Regions from separate parts of the Homo sapiens genome. Here region 2 is linked to region 1. Evidence: fine-mapped expression QTL. A gene starts in region 1. The other region holds a variant in brackets. All regions are shown on one strand. Distances are from middle to middle.

Region 1 (15,232 bases):
TGCCACCCACATGGGTGTCCCTCAGGACTCTTTCACCTGATGTAGTCAGCAAATAGGCAAGTGAGCAGCTATGGCTCAAGAAGGGAATGGTCACCAGGGGCTCATCCTCGTTGGTGAGGATCTGGGGCAACCCACCAGGTAAGCTATCTAGTCCAGCATGGGTCTAGCTGAGGGTGAAAGGGATCTGAATGAATAATCCAGGAGGGGGTTGTGAGTATCACCTTCAAGCCTGAGACTAGCTGCAGCAAGAGCTCACGCAAGAGCCTTGAGGAAAGTACAAATGAAACCCTACACAGCTGTGATACAGTGGGCAGGAGAGAAAATGACATGAGGTCTCACATGTTGTTGTAGTCAGATGGGGGGCTGGAGCTGAAACAGCATGGTGATCTTGAGCTGCTCCCTGTGGTCTGCCCCATGTGGGCTGGTTGGGCTTCCTCACAGCATGGTGGCCTCAGGGTAGTTGGACTGCTGACAGGGCAACTCAGGCCTCCAGGCACGAGTGCTCCAGTGAACATGGATGTCATGGAAGTCACACAGTACAACTTTCACTACATTCTCTTTGTAACAAGTGTGTCACAAGCCCGCCCATGGGCCAGGCACAGTGGCTTATGCATGTAATCCCAACACTTTCGGAGAATCCCTTGAGGCTAGGAGTTTGAGACCAGCCTGGGCAACATAGAGAGATCTTGTCTACAAAAAAGAAAAGAAAAATTAGTTGGGCATGGTGGCATACACCTATAATTTCAGCACTTTGTGAGATGGTGGTGGGAGGATGCCTCGAGCCCAGGAGTTCAAGATCAGCCTGGGCAACATAACGGGATATTATATCTAAAAAAAAAAGAAAAAAAAAAGTTTTCATTAGCCAGGCATGATGGCACATACCTGTGGTCTCAGCTACTCAGGAGGCTGAAACAGGGGGATCACGTGAGCCTAGGAGTTTGAGGCTGAAGTAAGTTAGGAGTCCACCACTGCACTCTGGCCTGGGCAACAGAGCAAGACTCTATCTCTAAAAAACACAAAAATTAATAAAATAAAAAACAATAAATAAACAAGATTCAATGAGAGGAGACATAGACCCTATCTCCTAATAGGAAGAATGTCAAGATCATATTGTAAATCAAAAATAAAATTATAAGCCCCAGCTGAGAGAATGGACCCCCTGTCGGCCAAGGGGACCCCAAAGAAACCCAAAAAACTAGTTCAGGCCATGATGGGAAGTGGGAGGTCACACATGCCTCATCATAGCCTCCTCCCTTTAAGTTTCGGCACAGCTGACCAGCATTAACATTAACATAGAGATCCTCCTAAGACTGACAGAACACTTTTGTAGCAATCAGATACCCGATTCTAACATGACTCTGGTATAGCAACACACGACAGAGAGCAGGCCCTAAAGGAAATCAAAGTATTTTACCCCAAAATAAATTTTCTTTGACATATTTTGAAATGGACTTGCAAAGTCATCTCTTGTGGGGGAAACTTGCATTCTGTAGAGAATCTCCTTACTTACTAGCTCTTTTCCAGAGAGTCTGATACCTTTTAAGGTCCCCAGAGACATGCACATCTATTCTCTCTGAAGCCTGCTAACTGGAGGCTTCATCTATGTAACAAGAACCTTAGCTTCCACATCCCCATTGTCTTAACTCAAGCATTTCTTTCTGCCGACTCCAACTCTTCAGGTAAAGCTTAACTCTTTTAACCAATTGCCAATCAGGAAATCTTTGAATCCTCCTCTGACCTGGAAGCACCACCCACCCACTTCAAGATGTCCCACCTTTCTGGGCCAAACCAATGTATACTTTACATATATTGATTCATGTCTTTGCCTGTAACTTCTGTCCCCATAAAATGTATAAAGCTATAGCCCAACCACCTTGGGCACCTGTTCTCAGGACCTCCTGAGGCTGTGTCACAGGCCATGGTCACTCCTATTTGGCTTAGAATAAACGTTCTGAGATATTTTAGAGTGTGGCTTTTCTCGTCAACCAAATTCTACAAAGAGCTTGGGGGGTGGGTAATGTTGTGGAGCCCATCTTTGGCAGATACAGTCTGCCAAAGATTGTGACACTGCCTTATCGATAAACTCAGTGGCTTAACACAATTAAAGCTTATTTCTCCCTCTTGTCACAGCTCTTTGGGTTCCTCATGGTTCCATGTGGTTCTTCAGAGCCTCCATTGGTGGCTCTAACCTCCCTGAGGTCCTCGGAGTGCCCTCCACTGGAGCAGTGGGTGAGTAAGAGAGCAGGGCTCACCCACAGGAGGTTGTTAGGGGCCAGCCTGGAAGAGGAGCACAGTGCCCGCCCCCACCCATCCCATTGACTAGCACTTAGCCACGTGGCCGCACCTGGTTGCAGAGGCTGGAGAGTGGAGCCCAGCTGTGAGCCTGGCCGGTCATGGGGACATGTGTTAGTGAGTACTGTCCACGTCAGGCTCAGACCATCTGACCTGAGGCTATGGGGATGCAGGGGTCCCCAGGGGGTGGACAGGACAGAAGGAGGAGGGAGACCTGCTTGGAGAACCTGTTCTCAGTTTCCATTTGTTACATAATGGACAAGAGGACCAGCACTTTTGCTCAGAGCTGCAGCTCTGGTTCCGCTAGGAAATGCCAGGCAGGGGCACAGCCAAGTGGTTCTCAGACAGTAAACCCCAAGCCACAGACCCTTGCTTTCTTGGGCAGGGAGTAGTGGACAGGGCTGACTCCAGGCAACAGTCCCAAACAGGCTGCACCAATGTGACCGCACCTCCCCTGAGTGCAGGCAAGGGGTGCTGTGCTCACGCTCTCAGCCTGGGTGCATCCTTACTTTGTTCACAGCTCCTCTATCGGACCCATTTCACTGAGGCTCAGCGAGGTTACCTATGTCGCCCCAGGTCACCATCCAGTAACCCAGAAAGCTTCTCTTGGCTCCTCCACTAACTGCGTGATCTTGGACAAGTCAGTTACTGTCTCTGAAAGCCAGTTCTCCTCCTTAAAATGGAGACAGTTGAGCCAGGCATGCTGGTTTATGCCTGTAATCCCAGCACTTTGAGAGGCGGAGGCAGGAGGATCGCTTGAGCTCAGGAGTTTGGGACCAGCCTGGGCAACATAGTGAGGCCCCCATCTCTATAAATTTTTTTTTTAATTAGCTGGGTGTGGCAGTGTGCCCCTGTGGTCCCAGCTACTCAGGAGGCTGAGGTGGGAGGATCACTTGGGCCCGGGAGGTCAAGGCTGCAGTGAGCCCTGATCGCGCCACTGCACTCCGGCCTGGGAGACAGAGTGAGATCCTGTCCAAAAAAAAAAAAAGGAGACAGTCCCATAACAAGCCCCCCATGGCGCCGCCCAGATGGGGTTTCGACGCCAGGGAGAGGAGGGAAAGGGTTATCAGGGAAGGTTCCTGGTGGCAGAGCTCACAGGGTCCGTGCTGAGCCGAATTTTGCACGGTAGCCTCAGAGTCCCGGAGCCGAGTCCAGAGGGCGGGATGCAGGTATTGCGAAGAGGCACACGCTCCGAGAGGAACCACCAGAGCGTGGGCTTTGGGCGAGGAGGGGTCTCCTCTGGTTGGGGGAGATCTGGCAGGCTTGGGGGAGATGGGGCTGAAAGGATGGACAGGGAGGGAAGGCCAGAAAGCTGGAGACGGGGATGGAGAGCTAAACCGCAAAGAGCAGGCGCCCTGCCCCGCTGAGGGCCCCGCGCCTCCAGCTCCTCCTTCCCGAGCTTCCCGGGGTCGGCGTCCAGCCGGCAACCAATGGGCCCCGCCCCCGCCCGCAGCCAATGGGCCGCGTCCCCGCCCGCGCGGCCGCCCCGCCCCTCGCGGACCCGGAAGTGGGCCTGGCACCTTCCCGGCCTGCCGCAGGGATGGGGCAGCTGTGCTGGCTGCCGCTGCTGGCACCGCTCCTGTTGCTGCGACCGCCAGGGGTCCAGTCCGCCGGCCCCATCCGGGCCTTCGTGGTGCCCCACAGCCACATGGACGTGGGCTGGGTCTACACTGTGCAGGTAGGTGCCGACCACGCCCCGCGCGCCCCTGAGGCTGCAGCTTCCCTCTCCCCGCGGGATCTGAGTGTGGGTTTGCGTCCCGGGGCCCGATGCCGGCGCAGAAGGAGGCTCAGTGGGTTCAGGACCCCACGCTGCCATTGACTGGTTGCGTCGCTAACTTCGGGCCAGTCACTTCCTGCCTCTGAACCCCCATTTCCCCTTCTGGAGGGTGGTGCAGATTGGAGGGACCCCTGCATTCCCGGCTGGGGAGGGGCTTGGGGGTTGACAGTGGTAACCCATTTTCCAGGGAAGCCTGGAGCAGGAGAGGGTGGGGCTGGCTTCAGAGCAGGTGGATGTCAGGTGCCCGCTGGGAAGGGGCCGGGCTGGTCCCCTGCGGGGCTGAATATTGGAGGCCAGCTCAGCGTCCTCCGCCCCCCAGGACAGGGGTGAAGGTGGACCTGTGGTCACCTCCTGGTTCTGCTCAGGACCTTGGGCGAGGGGCTTTGGTCCCTAAGCCTCAGTTTCCCCATCTGTAAAGGGTAGGGGAAGCATGCCCACTACAGCCAGTTTCCAGAGGAGAAAACCGAGGCCCAGAGAGGGTTGCTGCCTTGCCCAAGGTCGCTCGGGAATAACCCTCATGCCTCCTGACTCCCTGCTCGGTGCTCCTTCCATTCATGTAAGCACTCTGTGGGCACCCTGTGTGCAGGGCCCTCGGGACTCGGATGGGAACACACTACAGCTGTGGTCCTTGGAGCTCCCAGCCTTGGGGAGGCAGACGCCTAGACGCCAGGGACAGCCTGGGGAGCTCTTCCTCTCAGCACCAGCTTTCCTCATTTCAGCCCCAGCAGGCCCCTTTGGGGTCACTGGACCACACCCCGACTGAGGCCTAAGACTTTCCTGTGCTGCCCCTCAATGGCACACTCAGGGCCCAGCCCCCCAAATTGCACACTCAAGGCCCAGCTTGCTCACCCCTCTGAGAAACTGTCCCTGACCCCTGGGCTGGGAGGGCACCTGTCTCTGCCCATGTAGGGTGTCTGTTTCCCCGTCCCTCTCCCCCAGGAGAGCACGATCCCATCCAGTGGGGAGAGCCTGGTATGGAGCGAGTGCCTAATAGCTGTGTGGGGGGTGAGCAGCAGGGAAGGAAGGGCAGAGCCCCCAACCCCATGCAGACACACCTGGCGAATGGCAGGGGCCCCAGGGACACTTGGTCTTGTTGGACCGGGGCTGGCATGATGCTGTCCCCTCCCCAGGAAAGCATGCGGGCGTACGCCGCCAATGTCTACACCTCAGTGGTGGAAGAGCTGGCCCGCGGCCAGCAGCGCCGGTTCATCGCTGTGGAGCAGGAGTTTTTCCGGCTGTGGTGGGATGGCGTCGCCTCGGACCAGCAGAAATACCAGGTAATGAGGTCACCAGGTGACACAGTTGGCCCAGTATCCTGGCAAAGACCCAGGTGGAAAACTCAATGGGGCAGTTCTAGCCAGGGCCAGGGCCAGGCTGGCATAAACCACAGGGCCAAAACCCCACCGGGCTATTCACAGCCTTGTTTAGATCAAGGTTCACGGTGAGTTCCATGCCTGGGAGAGATTGCTTTCAATTTAATCCTGAATTTCTGTCTATTCTTGAAAAAACTGCCAGCTCTGGCAACCCAGCTGTGCACTTCCGTGCCAGCTGGCACTAAGTCAGCAGTGCCCCCTGACACCAGGCATCCCAGGTGTCCCCAAGCCCTCACCCTCTTCTCTCATTTGTGTTATCTGCCTGGCCCCCGGGCCCAGGGTCTGGTGACCCTTGATGAGGGTGCGATAGTCCCTGTGGTTTGAGGGTAGGCAGCAGGTTGCTTCATACAGCATGGAGAGTCAGAGTCCCCGCTGCACAGTGAGGCAGCCTGGGTCCCATCCTGCTCCCGCACCAGGGGACACGACTAGCCCCTGCGAGCCACAGATTCCACTTCTATTAAACGGGGGTGACCGCCCCATTGCAGAAAAGTCATGCCAAGAATGAAGCCCTGGCGTGAGCACCCAGGACGATACTCGGGGGTTCTTAGTTTCCTCCCAGGTATCCACCTGCCTTCAGAATAGTTGCTGAACATAAAGTTCAGGGACGCCAAGTGACTTGCTCAAGGGAGTGAAGCGGAGAAGGGAGAGCAGGGCGTCCACCAGGCCCCGCCAGAGTCACGGGAAGGAGCCGGACATCCAATGGCCACTTGATGCTGCCAGATAGTGGGGTTCTTACCTCAAGTTAAAGAGACATTCCAGGTTCAGAGAGGGCACGCCACTGGCCTGCAGTCACACAGCTTGTAAGCGGCAGGTGGGATTCTGAGCCAGGCATGCCTGACTCGAGGCAGGCCTTTCCAGGATATCCTGTGAGCGTCCCATGCTTCTTCAGGTGGACCCCACCAAACCCAGTGGTCTGTCTCCTAGCCCTCAAAGAGAAGCATGGCCTGCATGGCCCAGTGAAGACCTGGACAGGAAACTTGTGGCAGAGCTCCCTGGAGGCAGGAATTGTTGCCTGCTTCATTCACTGCTGAACCCCCAGTGCCTGAACAGTGCTGGTTGTGTAGTAGGTGCTCACTTAACATTTGTTGAGTGAATGATCTACATATAGTGCACCTTAAGAAACAAACCAAAGGCACAGCCTATAAACAGCTGTGTGTACACATACTGAGGTGTGTAGTGTCTAGGGCAACAAAGGTGTTATGTGTGTAGAGACGGGGATGTTAAGCAAATAGGTTAAAAATGGTAGTGATGAGTGAACCTTGGGAAAGGATATGGGAGCTCTTTGTTCTATTCCTGAAACTTTTCTAAAGTTTAGAATTAGTTAATAAAATAAGATTTAAGAAAATCTTATATATACAAATATATATCTCAAATACCACCTGAGGGCTGCATGATTTCTAGGTGGTGGGAACACAGTGTGGACCAGGACAGACAGTGCCCTGCTTTTATAGAGTAAGCAAGGGTGGGGAGTTTTATGCAGGGCGTGTGTGGCGCTGTAGGTGTGTTCCCCACAGACCCAGCCATGCTCAGGAGCCGTAACTGGCTTTTTTCTCTCTGCCTGCCCATGTCAAGGTCCGCCAGCTCCTGGAGGAAGGACGCCTGGAATTTGTCATCGGAGGCCAGGTCATGCATGACGAGGCTGTGACGCACCTTGATGACCAGATCCTGCAGCTCACAGGTTTGGCCACCCTACCCTGCACCCAGGGTCCCTCAGGACCTCCAGTGGGGCTGGGACATGGTATCAGAACCCCCAGGTTCTGAGCTCTGTCTGCCCCTCTTAGTGGGGTCGGGGACCTTAACCAGTGAAAGCAGTGATTTGCTAGTGCCATATTCATGCCTCACCAAGGAAGTTGAATGTAGGGGTTAAGAGCATGGATGCTAGAGTCAGATGGTCTCAATATATCCTGGCTCTGCCAATTCCCTCCTCTGTGACCCTGGAAAGGAATGTAACTTCAGTTTCCTCATAGATAAAATGAGTTTGATGGTAATACCTACCTCAAAGGGTTGTTGTGAGTATTAAATGGGATAATTCAAATAAAGCACTTTAGTAGGATGTGGGTTCCCTAGTAAATGCTCAGTAAGTGTTTGCTGCCTTCCATCACAATTACCACCTTCAGCACCATAATGACCATGACTACTACCATCACCACCACCACCACGATGACCATCACTACCACTACCATCACCACCACCACCACCATCACCATCACCACTACCACCATCACCACCATCACCACCACCATCACCATCACCACCACCACCACCATCACCATCACCAGCACCACCACCATCACCATCACCACTACCACCACCACCACCATCACCACCACCATCACCATCACCACCACCACCACCACCATCACCATCACCAGCACCACCACCATCACCATCACCACCACCACCACCACCATCACCACCACCACCCTTCACCACCATCACCACCACCACCATCACCACCACCATCACCATCACCACCACCATCACCACCACCACCACCATCACCACCACCACCACCACCACCATCACCATCACCACCACCATCACCATCACCACCACCACCACTACCCTTCACCATCACCACCACCACCATCACCATCACCACCACCATCACCACCACCCTTCACCATCACCACCACCCTTCACCACCACAATGACCATCACTACCACTACCATCACCACCACCATCATAACTACCATCACCACCACCCTTCACCACTGCTATGACCACCACTACCACTACCATTACTACCACTACCATCACCACCATCACCACTACCACCATCATCTTCACCACTACAATGACCATTACTACCACTACCATCACCACCACCCCCTAAACACTATCACCATGATCACCACCCATCACTGTCGCCACCACCATCACCACATCCATTACTACCATCCCCTCCACAATCATCATCACCACCACCATGACCATCTCCCTCACCATTGTGTCCACTGTCCTCAGCACCATCACCCACAGTGCCGTGGGGCACTCTACTCACCATTTACCAAATGCCTTTCACAGTGACACCCCAGCCAATCCTAATGGCGGGCTGATGGTGAGGCATGGTGATGCCCAGTTTCATTTTGCAGATGTAGAAACTGAGATCCAAAGAAATGCAGTAACTCTCTCCAGGGTAGATGGCCAGGACTTGAGTCCAGGCCTAGGGACTGAAGCTCCGAGTCCACAGTCACTCCACTACAGCATGGGCCCTGATTTCCCCATTTGTAAAACATCCAGGCAGAGAGCAATGTTGTCAAAGGATGTTTTTGGCACTCTCCCTTTTCTCATCTGTAATCTGGAGTGTTCCCCTGTCTCAGTTTCTTACTGCCTTACATCTGGACTTTGCTCAAACCCTAGACTTGCCCTTCCATGAGAAGGAGGCGTGATGGACACAGCCCTACAGACAGAGCTCCTCCTGTGGCCAGGAGCTCAGCCCCTGCTTGTCCCCCTGCATCCCCACAGGCCCAGAGGTAACAGGGGAGGACAGCAAGGCTCAGAGGGAGCACCTTGCCCTCAGCCGCCTGCTGTGGCTCCCTGACTCCAGAGCCCCTGCTCTTTCACTCCCCCATGTGAAGTGTGGGCAAGGGATCTATCCCAACAGACTTCCCCCACACCCCTTCACAAGCCCACTGCCAGGGAATGTGTGACACTGTAGGCGTGTCCCCCACCTGCCTCCTGCCCCGTGCCAGCGAGGAGGCTCTGGGGCTGTTTCTCACCTGTGCCATTTCACGCAGTGCTCCCCCTCATTCTCCACCCTCCTCCTCAAGATGCAGCTGAGAAGCCCCTCCCGCAGGAAATCTCTGAGTCTCTGCAGTTCTGTGTCACCTCCCCACTTAACCGCTGAACCTCAAGATGCCCCTGGCAGGGACCCCCATCTGACTCATCTCAGCACCCAGCATAGGGTCTGGCCCAGACCACTGCTTACTGGGCAAGGCTGGGCAAGGGGTGGGCGCTGAACTGCCCTGCCCTGAGGGTACCCACCACTGGGGTACCTCGCCTCTGGCCTCAGCCCACCGTGCCTAAGTGCTGATACCCCAGCGCTGACCCTGCAGGTCTGACCTGGCAACTGGAAGCCTCAGGGAAGCTGAGGCTGTGTCGCTCTGGGGCAGGAAGAGCCTCCAGAGACACAAGAGACAGCGGCTGTTGTGAGGCTCCATTTCCAAACCTGTCCAAGCTCATGGGGCCCTCAGGGTACAGACATGTGGGTTTCTTTCATGATAACCACCTTGTTCTAGGTACAAGATGTACACGTATTTTTTTTTCAGTCCTCAGGGCAATCTGGTAGATGGGTAATCTTACAAATGCTTATTTGTAGAGAAGTTTGAGGCTCAAATGCTATCCAAATGTGCCCACCACCAGCTAAGTGATGGGACCCAGATCCAACCCTAGCCCGGCCGAGTCAGGAAGGTTACTTGTGGCTGAGCCCCTCTCACTGGCGGCTGAGCCAAGCCCTTTCCCATCTGCTATCTCTTAGTTGCCTCAGAACAGCCTGGTAGCAAGTGGTACTGTTCACAGCCCCATTTGACAGATGAGGAAACTGAGGTACTGAGAGATGCGGGATTTATATATATGCAGTAGGTAACAGAACTGGCGCTCAAGCCCATGTGTGCCTGGCCTGGGCTCTTTCCTTAACTTGTAGTCCCTAGGGCGGGGGCAGAGTGTGTGTATCAGACCACCCATCTCAGATGTCCCAGGCATTCTGGCTGTGAATTATGTCCACATTGGGCTGGTTTTCTCAGATATGTTGGGGTAAGAGGGGCTGGATCACCCCTCACTGCTTCCGGGCCCTTTATCCTCCATCTCACCTTGGTGGAGCCCCTGCCTCGAGGCAGGCCCTGGACAGCAAAGGAAGACAGGAGCAGGCTGGTGCAGCCTCTAGACCTCTGACCTTCTTCTTCGGGTATCTAGGGTGCCAAAGCATCTCCTCAACCAAGACCCACTCCTGGCTGCCCGCCAGGGCCTGGGGCACTGGGCCTGCCCGTAAGCTCACCTTTCCAGCCTTTACCTCCCCAACTCCTGCTCCCGGCAGTCACGCCAACACCACCTTAATTTTAGATGTGACATTTCTAGTGAGGGGAAAAGCATTTGTTCCCAGCACTGCAGTGTCAGGGAAAGGCTGGGTGTGGGCAGCGGCCCCCGGGGGTAAGAGCTTTCATGCCCCTCCCTGAGGGGACACTTTCCCAGCTGGGATGTTTAGCGGAGGCCCAGCAGAGTGGCAGGTGCCAGAGGGAAAGAACCCCTCACCCCTATCCTGAGGGGAGAGAGCCCAGCTCCCGCCTCAGAGGTGCTGAGAGGCAAAGGGTCCAGGTGAGAGTCAAGGAGACACCTTGGGCCATCCTGGATGACCACTGCTGTCCTGGCCATTCAAACCCAAGCTCTCAGCCCTGTCCCCCAACCCCACTCCCTTCCCACTGAATCCGCGATCCCTCTCCTGTGTCACAGACTCTCTTCCACCTTCTCTTGTCTCTCTGACTCCTTCCAGCAGTATTTAGTTGTTGTTGTTGCCGTTGCTGCTGTTGTTGTTGTTGTTAGACAGAGCCTCACTCTGTCACTCAGGCTGGAGTGCAGTGGCGCAATCTCGGCTCACTGCAATCTCTACCTCGCAGGTTCAAGCAATTCTTATGCCTCAGCATCCTGAGTAGCTGGGAGTACAGGCGTGCACCACCATGCCCAGCTAATTTTCATATTTTTAGTAAAGACAGGGATCTCACCATGTTGGCCAGGCTGGTCTTGAACTCCTGACCTCAAGTGATCCGCCCACCTTGGCCTCCCAAAATGCTGGGATTACAGACCTGAGCCACCAAGCCCGGCCCCCAGCAGTATTGAAAACACACTTAAATTGTCTCTCTTCAAAAAAAAATTTTTTTTAACATGGGGTCCACTGTGTTGCCCAGGCTGGTCTTGAACTCCTGACCTCAACATCATAAAGCAAGACCCTCCAGCTCAGGCTGTAATGGCATTTATTCCCACCACCCCCTCACCCCCCACCACCTCCCACTACTTCACCCTCAGCCCCTGCATCCTGGCCTCTGCCCTGCATGTGCTAGTGAGCTTGCTTGTGGCCTGGTCATTATACTGGTGAGGATACTGGTTCAGCAGCTTGAACAGAGACCAAGTGACTCCAACAAGAAGGAAGGTGTGTTTCTCTCCTGTGGAAGTCTGCAGTGCAGGCCACTCTGGTGATTGGGTGGCTCTGCTCCATGGAGTGACCCAGGGATCCACGTTGCTTCCATCTTGATGTTCAGCCATCCCCCACAGTGTTGCCTGCCTGAGTTGCAGTCTAGACTGGCTCACCCCACTGAGTTGTCCTTCCAGCAGCTAGGGGATAGGGAATGGTGGAGCCAGGGCAGGCAGCTTCCTTGTAAAAGGCGACCTAGAACCTGCCCACATCACTCCTCACATTTCCATTGGCCAGAACTTAATCATATGGCCTCCCTCAACTGCAGGGACTGCTGGGGAATAGAGTCTATTTTGCTCCCAGTCCATTGGCCAGAGTGGTGTCATGTGACCTCTACCAGTTGCAAAGGAGGCTGGGGAATGTAGTCTCTGGCTGGGAGTCCATTTGCCCTGCTAAAACCAAGAAGGAGTGTGTGGTTCTGTTACTAAAAGGAAGAAGGACAGAATGTATATCGGACGCCAATTAACAGTTTTGGTCATGAATCACCCTGAAGTCTCAGGAATGCTTTCTGCTGGACGGCCAGAAAACCTAAGTAAAGCTGTTAGTGGTGGAAGGTATCCAAGTTACCAGCAGCTAATCCGTACGGGTCTGCAGCAACCCCAGTTCTTGCCTCCTCGGAAGAAAGAATTCGACTGAGGGGCATAAGGCAGAAAAAGAGACTGAGGCATGTTTCAGAGCAGAAGTGGAAGTTTATTTAAAAAGGCTTTAAAATGAGAAAGAAAGGAAAATATGCTTGAAAGAGTCCCAAGTGGGCACGTGAAGGTCAAGTGCTGTATTGATCCTTGATCCTAGGACTTTATAGGCTGGTCCCCTTTCCCATGATTCTTCCCTTAGGCTGGGCTACCCGCACTCACAGTGCCCTCCTTACCCTTGGGAGGTGAGCACACGCACTGTGTTTAGGAAGTTGCACACATGCCCATCTGACGCTTTCTTCCCTTTTCCAGTGGAGTGTCCCTGGAAGGTCAAACTCCGCCATTTTGTCTCTTAATGCACCTGCTCGGGAAGTCACGTCTCCCTGGCACCTGCATTCAATTAACATGTTAGTGCAACAGGTGTGGACCATCAGGAAATGCCCTCTCCCTAGTGCTGGCTGCCAATTTCTCACTTCTAGAGAGGCAATGTGATAATTGCCAAACCATCACCCAACATTCCTAGTGGGTGGGGGAAGAGCCCTCCCCTGCCCCACTCATGCTTGTCTAACTACCTGTAACAAAGCGACTTGAGTCTTAAGAACATTTACTTAACAAGATGGGGATAGTTTGGGACTGGTTCTGCAGTACCTTGATATCTGTGATTCTCATGTCCTTACCCTTGTGGTCACGATATGGCTGCCATAGCTCCAGCCATCATGTTACCAGACACCACATTCAAGGCAGTAAAAGGAAGAGAGGGGGCTTTCTATACCCATAGTCTATTCTGTTGGATAAACTTAGACACACTAAAATGTTAGCATTTATTTGAACAAACAGTGATTCCTGAATCAGGAAGTACTAGACTGTGAGCAGTTCATGGCTCCACTAAGGGAATATGAGAGGGAAACGTCTATAAGGTGCTCCTGAAAGCAAGACAAAGAAAACATTTGCCTACAGTGAACAGTCCCTAGTTAGAGGTTGGTTGGCAGTTTCCGATGGGTCAAGCTTAAGTTCTCTTTTCCTGTTTCCACCAAGTTAGATTTGGGTTTGCTGACAGAGGAACTCGAGGCCTGGAGCCGGCTCAGCCTGATGGCCTCCCAGTTCATTACTTAACAATGCCCCTCCAGCTGCCAGACAGAGAGAACCAATATCTGACAGGAGGGAGTAAGCGTGCCACATTTGGCTTAGATCAACTGTGATTCGTCCCTTGAGGCTGGGCATGGTGCACCCTGAACAGAGGGAAGGTTCTGCGAGTGAAAAAGGGGTGCTGACTTGGCAGCCTTCAGCCTGCCCCCACCGGCTGCCCTGTCTGGTGCGAGGCCGTACCCTCCAGAGCTCCTGGCTCCTCTCAGTGCGGTGCTGTTGCCCACTCCCTCCTTCATCCTGCAGCTGGCACTCCCCCTGTGCTCCCCCCACCCTCTGGCTGCTCCTTCTCCATCCTCTCTGCTTACATATGCACAGCCTCCACCCACACTCCTAGTCCACGCTCCCCCTGATCCCCTCTCACCTCTGCTGTGCACCTGATGCCAGCCCCACTCCTCACCTCCCACAGTCATCCCCTGCCCTGTCTTGCTTGGCCTTGCTCATAGGTCTGACTGCTGCTCGGTCCCAGCATCCCAGGCCTCATCTGAGGCTCAGCCAGGGTCCCCAGGACTGCAAGTTCATCAGTGAAAGGCAGTTTGACTCTAGATCAGTTATGAGAGTTCTCTGAGGCACTGTTCACCAATCTTAAAGTGCAGATTATAACACCCATCTCTCAAGGTGTTAGAAAGATTATATTTGGGGCAAGGACTTGGGGAATGTTAATCAATGCCTTATACAAGTCTGGGGTTTTCTTTTTCCCTGCAGCACTGAACCCAATATCTGGTTCACTATGGTGACTCTTAAGTAATAAATGAATAAATGAATGGTTGGGTGATTCTGGCATGGAGTCCTTTGTATTCATGATCTATTTCCGTGTAGCAAATTGCCCCCAAACTTCTGAGAACAAACATTTCATATCTACAGCTCCTGTGGGTGAAGAGCTCAGGAGTGACTTAGCCAGGGGGTTCTGGCTCAGGACCTCTTGAAAAGTTGCCATCTGGGAGTCAGGTGGGGCAGTGTCATCTGAAGGCTGGACTGGGGCTGGAGGGTCTACTCCAGGCTGGCTCTCGCGGCTGTGAGAGGAAGCCTCAGTTCCTCGCCATGTGACTGGTCATGGCACAGCAGCTGGCCCCCAGAGCAGCGACCCAGGAGAGCAGGCAAGGGCAGCCACAGTAGAAGCTGTGTGCCCTTCACCTTCTCTCCTCAAGGGTACACAGGTACTTCTGCTTCACTGTGTTTGTTAGAAGTGAGTCACTGAGTCTGGCCACCCTCTAGGCCCTAAGCCTCACCTGTTGAAGACGCAGCAATAATTTATGGACATCTTTTCTTGTGGTTTTTTTTTTTTTGAGACAGAGTCTCACTCTGTCACCCAGGCTGAAGTGCAGTGGCAGGATCATGGCTCACTGCAGCCTCAACCTCCTGAGCTCAAGTGATCCTCCCACCTCCACCTCCCAAGTACCTGGGACTACAGGCATGTGCCACCACCACGCCTGGCTAATTTTTTAAATTTTGTGTGCATGTGTAGAGATGGGGTCTCACTATATTGCCCAGGCTGGTCTCAAACTCCTGGGCTCAAGCGATCCTCCCACCTCAGCCTCCCAAAGTGCCAGGATGACAGGCGTGAGCCACATTGCTGGCCTTGGACGTCTTTTGAACCACCGCACACTTAGGTTTGAAGTTCACCTTTAACCTTTTATTGTTGGTGATGTCCAAGACCTCCATAGCATCATCAAAATCAGTGCTCTATCCAAGTTCACACAAAAATCCTCACCCCTGCACGTGCTGTAACATGCAGGAACCTTAAGGACATTACGCAGAGTGAAATACGCCAGTCACAGAAGGACTGATGCTGTGTGATTCCGCTGATATCTACAGGCATCAAATTCATGC
Region 2 (8,686 bases), 41 kb after region 1:
GGAGTGCAGTGGTGTGATCTTGGCTCACTGCAACCTCCACCACCCAGGTTCAAGCAATTCTCCTACCTCAGCCTCCCGAGTAGCTGGGATTACAGGTGCCCACCACCATGCCCAGCTAATTTTTGTATTTTTAATAGAGACAGGGTTTCACTGTGCTGACCAGGCTGGTCTCAAACTCCTGACAGCAGGCAATCCGCCCTCCTTGGCCTCCCAAAGTGCTGCGATTACAGGTGTGAGCCACCACACCCTGCCAAAATTTTTTTTTTAATACTGATGCCTCAATTCTAATCCCAGACAGATTGATTTAGTCAGCTTTGAGGCATAGCTGCAGAGCTGAGGTTCTACCAGCCAGGGTTTAGGAAGCACCTGTGTTAACCAGGTCCTCTCTCCAGGACCTTGAACTCAGTGCTTTCCTCTGAGCCTCGGTCTTCCCATCTGTAAAACGGGAGCAATGGCAATGAGCCTTTCTGAGTGGGAAGATCAGGGATGGGACAGGAGATCACATACATCATGTGGCAAATGACAGCATTATATCAGTCAGGGTGGCTGGCGTATGCTGCAGTAACAAAGAGCCCCGAATGCCCACGGTCTTAACAGTATATATTCATTTCTCCCCCATGCTGTGCATCCAGTGGGGTTAGCAGGAAGGTTTTTCTTGCTGTGGCCACCACGCCCCCCGCTGATGGAGTTTGTATTGCAGCACGTGCTTCCTCACTCACCATGGCAAGAAAAAGCTTCTGCCGGGAAGTACTGCGTCACTTCAGCTCACTTTGCATTGGCCACAGAGGCCACGCAGCCTCCCCTGACTTCAAAGGGGGCAGGGTAGGAGAGACTGGAGTATTTGAGGACATGCCCCAATATGCCCACAACAGTGGACGAGGATGGAAACATTGCAGCTGGTGTCATGGTGGGCAGCCTTACAGTCGGCCAGACCTGGGTGGGAATCCTCCCTCTGCCGCGCACCAGCTGTATGCCTTGGGCACGTGACTGCCCCTCTCTGAGCCTTGGTTTCCTTGTCGAGTGGGGGCCATGTCAGCTGTCTCACATGGAGTCTATTAGTCTGTTCTCATGCTGCTCATAAAGACATACCCGAGACTGGGTAGTTTATGAAGAAAAAAGGTTTAATGGACTCACAGTTCCACCTGGATAGGGAGGCCTCACAATCATGGCAGAAGGCAAATGAGGAGCAAAGTCACGTCTTACATGGTGGCAGGCAAGAGAGCGTGTGCAGGGGAACTGCCCTTTACAAAATCATCAGGTCTCATGAGACTTATTCACTATCACAAGAACAGCACAGGAAAGACTCACCCCCATGATTCAATTACCTCCCACCAGGTCCCTCCCACAACATGTGGACATTATGGGAGCTACAATTCACGATGAGATTTGGTTGGGGACACAGCCAAACCATATCGAGGAGGTTACAGATAGGAAATGGAGCTGAGTGTGTAAAGCAGCGGGTATAGACCAGGGACATTGGGGTTGGTTGATGAGGGTCTTCACTGCCACCTTCCTTCTGTCCCCAAAGGCCATCGAGGGGAAGCCCAGGCTGACCTCCGCCGTGTCCTGCTGCGGCTCTACCACCTATATGAAGTGGGCGAGGACCCAGTCCTGTCTCAGCCAGTGACAGTGAATCTGGAGGTGAACTTCCCCACCCCCATCCAGACCATAAGCCAGGGAAGCAAACCCTAGATGAAGCCCCAAGAAACTGCCTTGGCAAAGAGATCCACGAGGGCTTCCTCCCAAATGGACGCTGGTATGGGCCCCACCCCGCCCTTCTTCATGGTCTTCTGGGTTTGTCAGGTATTACAACTGGCCTGGTTTTTTAGGGTTTTTTGTGTATATGTGAGACAGGATCTCACTCTGTTGCCCAGTCTGGGGTGCAGTGGCACAATCTCAGCTCACTGCAACCTCTGCCTCCCTGGCTCAAGTGATCCTCCCACCTCAACCTCCCAAGTAACTGGGATCACAGGGGCGCGCCACCACGATGGCTAAGTTTTTTTTTTTTTTTTTGAGACCGAGTTTCGCTCTCGTCCCCCAGGCTGGAGTGCAATGGTGCGCTCTCAGCTGGCTGCAACCTCCATCTCCCAGGTTCAAGTGATTCTCCTGCCTCAGCCTCCCGAGTAGCTGGGATTACAGGCATGTGCCACCACGCCCGGCTAATTTTTTTGTACTTTTAGTAGAGACAGGGTTTCTCCATGTTGGTCAGGCTGGTCACGAACCCCTGACTTCAGGTGATCCACCTGCCTCGGCCTCGCAAAGTGCTGGGATTACAGGCGTGAGCCACCAAGCCTGGCCTAGTTTTTTTATTTTTAGTAGAGACACGGTCTTGCTGTGTTGCTCAGGCTGGTCTCGAACGTCTGGCCTCAAGCAATCTGCCTGTCTTAGCCTCCTGAAGTGCTGGGATTACAGGCGTGAGTGGCCTGTATTTTCTTTCTTATTTATTCTGTGGTAAAACTTTTAAAACACAGACAACATCTGTGTAATCCAAAAACAAAACAGATTCCCCATAGAGTTGCTTTGAAAGGTGACTTAGAGTCAGACAATCCAGGGTCCACACCCAGGCCCCTCTACGGGGGCATCTCCGGCACCCCATGCCTCTGGGCCTCAGTTTCCCCCCATGTAAAATGGGGAGAGGTGAGAGTTCTTTGCCCAGAAGGTTGCTGAGAGGCCCTGGCACTAAGGGGCCTCGTGCAGTGTCAGGGCCCCCAGGCCTCGTCCCCTTCCAGGTTCCCCTCTTGGCTGATGTTGCCCTCTCAGCTCTACTATCAGGCGAGGCTTCCGCCACCTGGCCTGCCCACGCTCCCTCCCCAGAAGGCATGACCTGAGCCGCCTCATTTCTTTCCCAGTTTGCATTCTTTCTATTTCATTTCCTGCTCATGGAGAATTTCTGTGAATCTCTGTGTTTCTGCCTTGGGCCTCCTTCGACATCTGAGTCTTCAGGGGAATCCAGAGAAGCCCCAGTACCTTTTCGCCATGATGTCTTACTGGGCCACCCACCTCCTCTTTCATGATCCTCGCCACGGAGGATCCTTTCCTCACGGTCCCTGGCCTGCCTGAGAGCAGGTCTAGGCCATGGCGGGTACCAGTGCCCAGCACAGGGCCAGCCTGCCCTGGGAAGCAAGGAGGCCAGCGTGGGACCTGGAAGTTGGTCATCTGATGCTCCCCCGTTTCACAGATGGAAGCACCAAGGCCCTGAGACAAGGAGACGGTTGGGATGGACACCATGACTCCCTGCCCAACGTGGACGGTGGTGGGGTGGAAAGACCATTGAGTTAGGAACGCAGTGAGTTTGGCTGCAAGTCACAAAACACCTAACAGATGTGCTTAGAACAGAGGACAGAGTGTTTTCTCACCGAACAGGCATGTCCGATGGACCCCAAGCGCTGTCACCGTGGGCCCGATCACTGTCATCTTCCCGCCATCGCCGGCAGACTGGCTTTTGTCTTTTGCCGTCTGCTTGTTTGCGGTCACAAGATGGCACAGGCCTCCCTCATGAGCAAATTTCAAGGCAGGGTAGGGCTCAGCAGTAGTGGCCAGAAAGGCCTTGCCCTAGCGTGGCTCTCTCCCTCCGTCAGCACACAGAAGCTTCTCCAAGAGCCACCCCCAGCCCTCCTGCTCCACAGACTTTTCCAGACCCCTAAGGGCCTCCTGCCTCCCCTAGGTGTAAGGGAGGCTGGGACAAGGCCTATTGGGAAAGGGGGATGGGGTAACTGTGGCTGGCTTCCTCCCTGGACTGGGCACGGGGCCACCTGAGCAATGTGGGGAGAGGAGAACTCCGCGGTGGGGTGGGCAGCTCAAAATGCCACACCTCCCGGGCTGCTCCTCCAGCTCGGCCACCTGGTAAAGCATGCACCTCCCGCTTCAGTGTCCTCATCTGTAAAGTACACGGCCAGTCCTGTCCTCGCAGATGTGCTGTGAGAAGCAGATGAGGGAGCTGTGTCAGGCACCAGGGGAGGACCTGGGCTCCTGAGGACACCGAGTTCGTGGTGTGTCTGCCCTGCTGCTGTCTTGGTTCTCTGCTCAGCTCTGGAACTTGGTGCAGCTCACTCTCCCTCTGCTCCTCTCCCTGCAGGCTGTGCTGCAGGCGCTGGGGTCCGTGGTGGCAGTGGAGGAGCGCTCGCTCACAGGGACCTGGGATTTGAGCATGCTGCACCGCTGGAGCTGGAGGACGGGGCCTGGCCGCCACAGAGGTTTGGGGACCCCCGCTTCAGCTCCCTACCCAGGACTCCCAGCCAGGCTCAGCAGCTGGTCAGACCCGGTGCACATCCAACCATCTGCCTGTCCCGGCCTGTGCGACCTTGCGAGGCTGCTTTCCTACTCTGAACCCGCAGCCCTCCCAAATCTACTACAGTCGGTTAAGAAAGGCTTTGGGTTAGTCTCTGCCTGCCAGGGCTCCACACAGGCGTGTGTGTGCACTTGTACGTGTGCACACGCAGACCACACGCCCTGCCTGTGCCCTGGGTGACAGCTAGGGGCCCAGGGGCTTCTGCCCACCTTGGCCCTGCTGACCTCAGCCCATCAGCCGGTCCCTGCCTCATACGACATGTGCCACCGTGAG[C/A]TCCTGCACTACAGGCAGCTTCCAGGCTCCACTCCCTGTCCGCACCATGCCCTCTGCCTGGGACGCACAGGTCCCATTCACTCTGGCCAGCACCTGCTCAAGCTCCCCAGGATGCCTCCCCAGAGTCACCAACCAGGCCAAGTGCCTCCTCCACTCTCCTGGCCCCAGGGGTTTCTTCTGTCCTGTGCAGCTCGTTGTCCACTACACACAGCATGGTGGCGGGTGCATGGTGCACGCTCAGTTGGTGGTGGGAGGAAGGAAGGGACGGAGGGAGGGAGGGAGGGAAGATGATGTTGGTTGGAAAGAAGGAAGGAAGATGGATGAGTGATAGATAAGTGGACGGCTCCCTCCCAAGATCGAAGCCCAACCCCAGGGCATGCCTTCAGGGGAGCCTGGTGAGGCAAGGGCAGACTCACCAGATGGTCTCAGAAAGCTCTTGGGCTTTGAGGGCAACACCCATGAGGAATTGAGGCCACTAGGGCCAGGACCAACCTATGAATTGCCCTCAGGGTGGGCAGAAACGCCAAGAGGCCCACAGGAGTCCTGGCAGAAGGGGATGCCATAGGCCGTTGCCACGGTGGGAGCCACAGCAGACTGTAGCCAGGTGCAGTGTGGTGAGAAGGAGGCTGGGAGCCACAGCAGATTGTAGACAGGTGCAGGAGGGTGAGAGGGAGGCTGGGAGCCACAGCAGACTGTAGACAGGTGCAGGGGGTGAGAGGGAGGCTGGGAGGAGGCATCCCAGGCCACACTGGACAGATCACCTCTGTTCCCCTAGGTGACACCACCTCTCCCTCGAGGCCACCAGGAGGCCCCATCATCACCGTCCACCCAAAGGAAATCCGGACGTTCTTTATTCACTTTCAACAGCAGTGAGCCCTGGGCAGATGCCCCGGCCCCAGGGCTTCCCCCAGGAACTCCATGTAACAGAACAGACCCAGGACAGGGAAAAGCAGTGCGGAGGGATGGGACTGGGGAGTCAGCTGCTCATCTGCAGGCTAATGGCAGGAAATGGTCATATTTGGGGTTTTTCCCTAATTTTTTTAAACAAAAATTACATTACAAGATCCAGGTTCTTCCCCCCCACACTCAATCAAGCCAGCCCTCTCCTCTTCTGTCACGTAAAGGATATTTGGCACACTCATGCGTCATTCATTCACAAAACACAAACCCAGGACTTTCTGCCTAAGGCAGAGCACAAGACTCACAGCAGCACCGAAGCGCATCTGCCGTCCGGGCCCTGCCAGGCTTGCCAGGCTGCCAGTGGTAACTGTGGACCTACTGCGTGCCACGTGTTTTCATAGACTCATCCCATGCTGGCAACAGCCCTGCAAGGGGCTTGGCTCTGCCACAGGGCAGGAGAGGAAGTTGTAGCGCCTAGCGAGAGTTCCAGCCCCAGACGCCCACCTGTGCCTCAGGGCACCGCCTGCCGAGCAGAGAAGGCACAGCAGCCGTCAGAGTCCATGAGAGGTGAAACCACACAGCAGGGATGTCCAATATCAGAACTATTAATATCAATAAAAGTATAACCTTCCCAGGTCTATGCCCAAGAGAATTGAAAACATCCATCCACACAATACCTGTGCTCCCGCGTTCATAGCAGCATTACTCAAAAGTCAAACGGTAGCAACAACCCAAATGTCCATCCACAGATGAATTAAGACATGAAGTGTGTTCTGTCCATACAATGGAATATTATTTGGCCATAAAAAGGAAGGAAATTCTGACGCATGCCACAGCCTGAGTGAATCCTACAAATATTACGCTAAGTGAAAGAAGCCAATCACGAGTTTATGTGAAATGTCCAGAATAGGCAAATCTGTGTATCAGAGACAAAGCACATTGGTGGTTGCCAGGTACTGGAGGAAGAGAGAAGAGGCATGACAGCTAACAGGGACGGGCTTTCTTTGGAAGATGATGAAATTGTGGAATGATGGTTGCACAACTTTGTGAATATACTAGAAACCAATGAATTAAAAACTTTGGAAGATGAATTTTATGGTCTGTGAATTATATCTCAATTTTAAAACTTTTTTTTTTTTTTCCCGAGACAGAGTCTCACTCTGTCGCCCAGGCTGGAGTGCAGTGTCAAGATCTCAGCTCACTGCGACCTGCACCTCCTGGGTTCAAGCAATTCTCCAGCCTCTGCCTCCCGAGTAGCTGCTACTAGAGATGCACCACTGCGTCAGCTAATTTTTGTATTTTTAGTAGAGACGGGGATTCACCATGTTGGCCAGGCTGATCTGGAACTCCTGACCTCAGGTGATCTGCCTGCCCCGGCCTCCCAAAGTGCCAGGATTACAGGCGTGAGCCAATGTGCCCGGCCTAAACCGTTTTAAAGAGTAAACTGTAAGATGTAGGAAATTATTTGGTACTCTAGGGCTGAAGGAAAGTACCCAGAAAGGACCAGCTTGGAAGGAGTCAGACCTCTGGACAACGTGCAGTTTGGCCACCAGACAGCAAAGACAGTCTCTGGTTTGGCCAGGCAGGAGCTGGGCTGGAGTTGCTGACCAAGCAATAGGCCACCCCTGTGAGGTGGGGTCAGGTGAGCAGCCACCAGAGGCATGGATGTGCAGTGGGAGGTTGAGGCACAAGGAGTGAGGCAGGAGCCCTTTAGAGCATGTGGGCTGCATGAGGCTTGGTTTCTGTGTCAAGAAGACTATGGAGGCTGGGCAGTGGTTCATGCCTTAATCCCAGCACTTTGGGAGGCCAAAGCAACCGGATCACTGGTGGTCAGTAGTTCAAGACCAGGCTGGCCAACATGGTGAAACCCCATCTCTACTAAAAATACAAAGTTAACCGGGTGTGGTGGTGTGCGCCTGTAGTCCCAGCTACTCGGGAGGCTGAGGCAGGAGAATCAATCACTTGAACCTGGGAGGCGGAGGAGACCTCCGCCTCTGCACTCCAGCCTGGGTGACAAGAGTGAGACTCCGTCTCAAAAAAAAAAAAAAAAGGAAGACTACGGAGGCCAGGCGTGGTGGTTCATGCCTGAAATTCCAACACGCTGGGAGCCCTAGGCAGAAGGATCGCTTGAGCCCAGGTGTTCCAGACCAGCCTCGGCAATATAGTGAGACCCCATCTCTACAAAAACTATTCTTTAGACGAGCGTGGTGGTGTGCACCAGTGGTCCCAGCTACTCTGGGGGCTGAGGTGGGAGGCTCACTTGAGCCCAGGAGGTCGAGGCTTCAGTGAGCCATGATCATGCCACTAACTCCAACCGGGGTAATAGAGCAAGACCCTGTCTCAGAAAAAAATAAAGAAGACTATGGAAATGTTATCCCCAGCGCAGCCAGGCTGTAGAAAAATCATGTGCACTGAAAGTACCATCACCCATGCTGACCATCCCCGTCCAGAACAGAAACAGCAAGAGAGCCACTTCCCCCTGCGGTCCCTCCAGCACCCAGCACCCTCAACTGGGAAGAGTGAGAAGAATATAGATGACAGGGGAAAACCCACCCACAATAGACAGAATATTGGCTAAAATCTAACATCCATTTGTTGCTTTGTTGTTATTTCATTTCATTTTACTTTTTTAGACACAGGGTCTCGCTCTGTCACCCAGGTGGGAGTGCAGTGGCACTATCATAGCTCACTGGAACCTCTTAACTCCTGGGCTCAAGTAGTCCTCCCATCCCACCCTCCTGAGTAGCTGGGACTACAAGCATGAGTCACTACACCCAACTAATTTTTAAAATGTTTGTGGAGACGCAGTCTCACTATGTTGCCCAAGCTGGTCTTGAACTCCTGAGCTCAAGCGATCCTCCCACCTAGGCCTCCCAAAGTGCTGGGATTACAGGCTCAAGCCACTGTGAATGGCCTGTTTTTTGTTGTTGTTGTTTGTTTTTTTTTTTTTTTTTTTTTTTTTTTTACAAACCACCACCACCAAACTCCCAATAAACTACGTTGCTCACTGACAATCCCCAACAGGTTTATTGCGGAACTTGACAGGATGATTCTGAAGTGCACTGGGGCTAGGTACAGTGGTTCGTGCCTGTAATCCCAGCACTTTGGGAGGCCAAGGTGGGTGGATCACTAGAGGCCAGGAGTTCGAGACCAGGCTGGCCAACATAGTGAAACCCCCTCTCTAAAAAAATACAAAAATTAGCCAGGCTTAGTGGCAGACGACTG

The links.
Region 2: its variant is fine-mapped to the expression of MAN2B2 in aorta (GTEx, PIP above 0.99). The same link has a PIP of 0.9 or more in tibial artery.

Annotation. Positions count from the first base shown.
Region 1 is chr4:6,571,379-6,586,610 of GRCh38, forward strand. It overlaps MAN2B2 (mannosidase alpha class 2B member 2), which reads left to right and starts at 3,811. Exons shown (of 19, transcript NM_015274.3): 1 at 3,811-3,970; 2 at 5,200-5,346; 3 at 7,015-7,120. The coding sequence starts at 3,833. LOC105374365 (a long non-coding RNA gene) reads left to right here. Exons shown (of 3, transcript XR_925098.3): 2 at 2,131-2,229; 3 at 2,813-2,960. RefSeq lists enhancers at 2,007-2,775, 2,776-3,543, 3,544-4,312 and a silencer at 3,601-4,060.
Region 2 is chr4:6,615,852-6,624,537 of GRCh38, forward strand. MAN2B2 (mannosidase alpha class 2B member 2) reads left to right here. Exons shown (of 19, transcript NM_015274.3): 17 at 1,529-1,641; 18 at 4,076-4,193; 19 at 5,337-7,511. The coding sequence ends at 5,434. Among named protein-coding and RNA genes, the nearest start is that of MRFAP1, 20 kb to the right of the region's middle. RefSeq lists a silencer at 6,599-6,792. The variant C/A (reference allele first, on the strand shown) is at 4,562.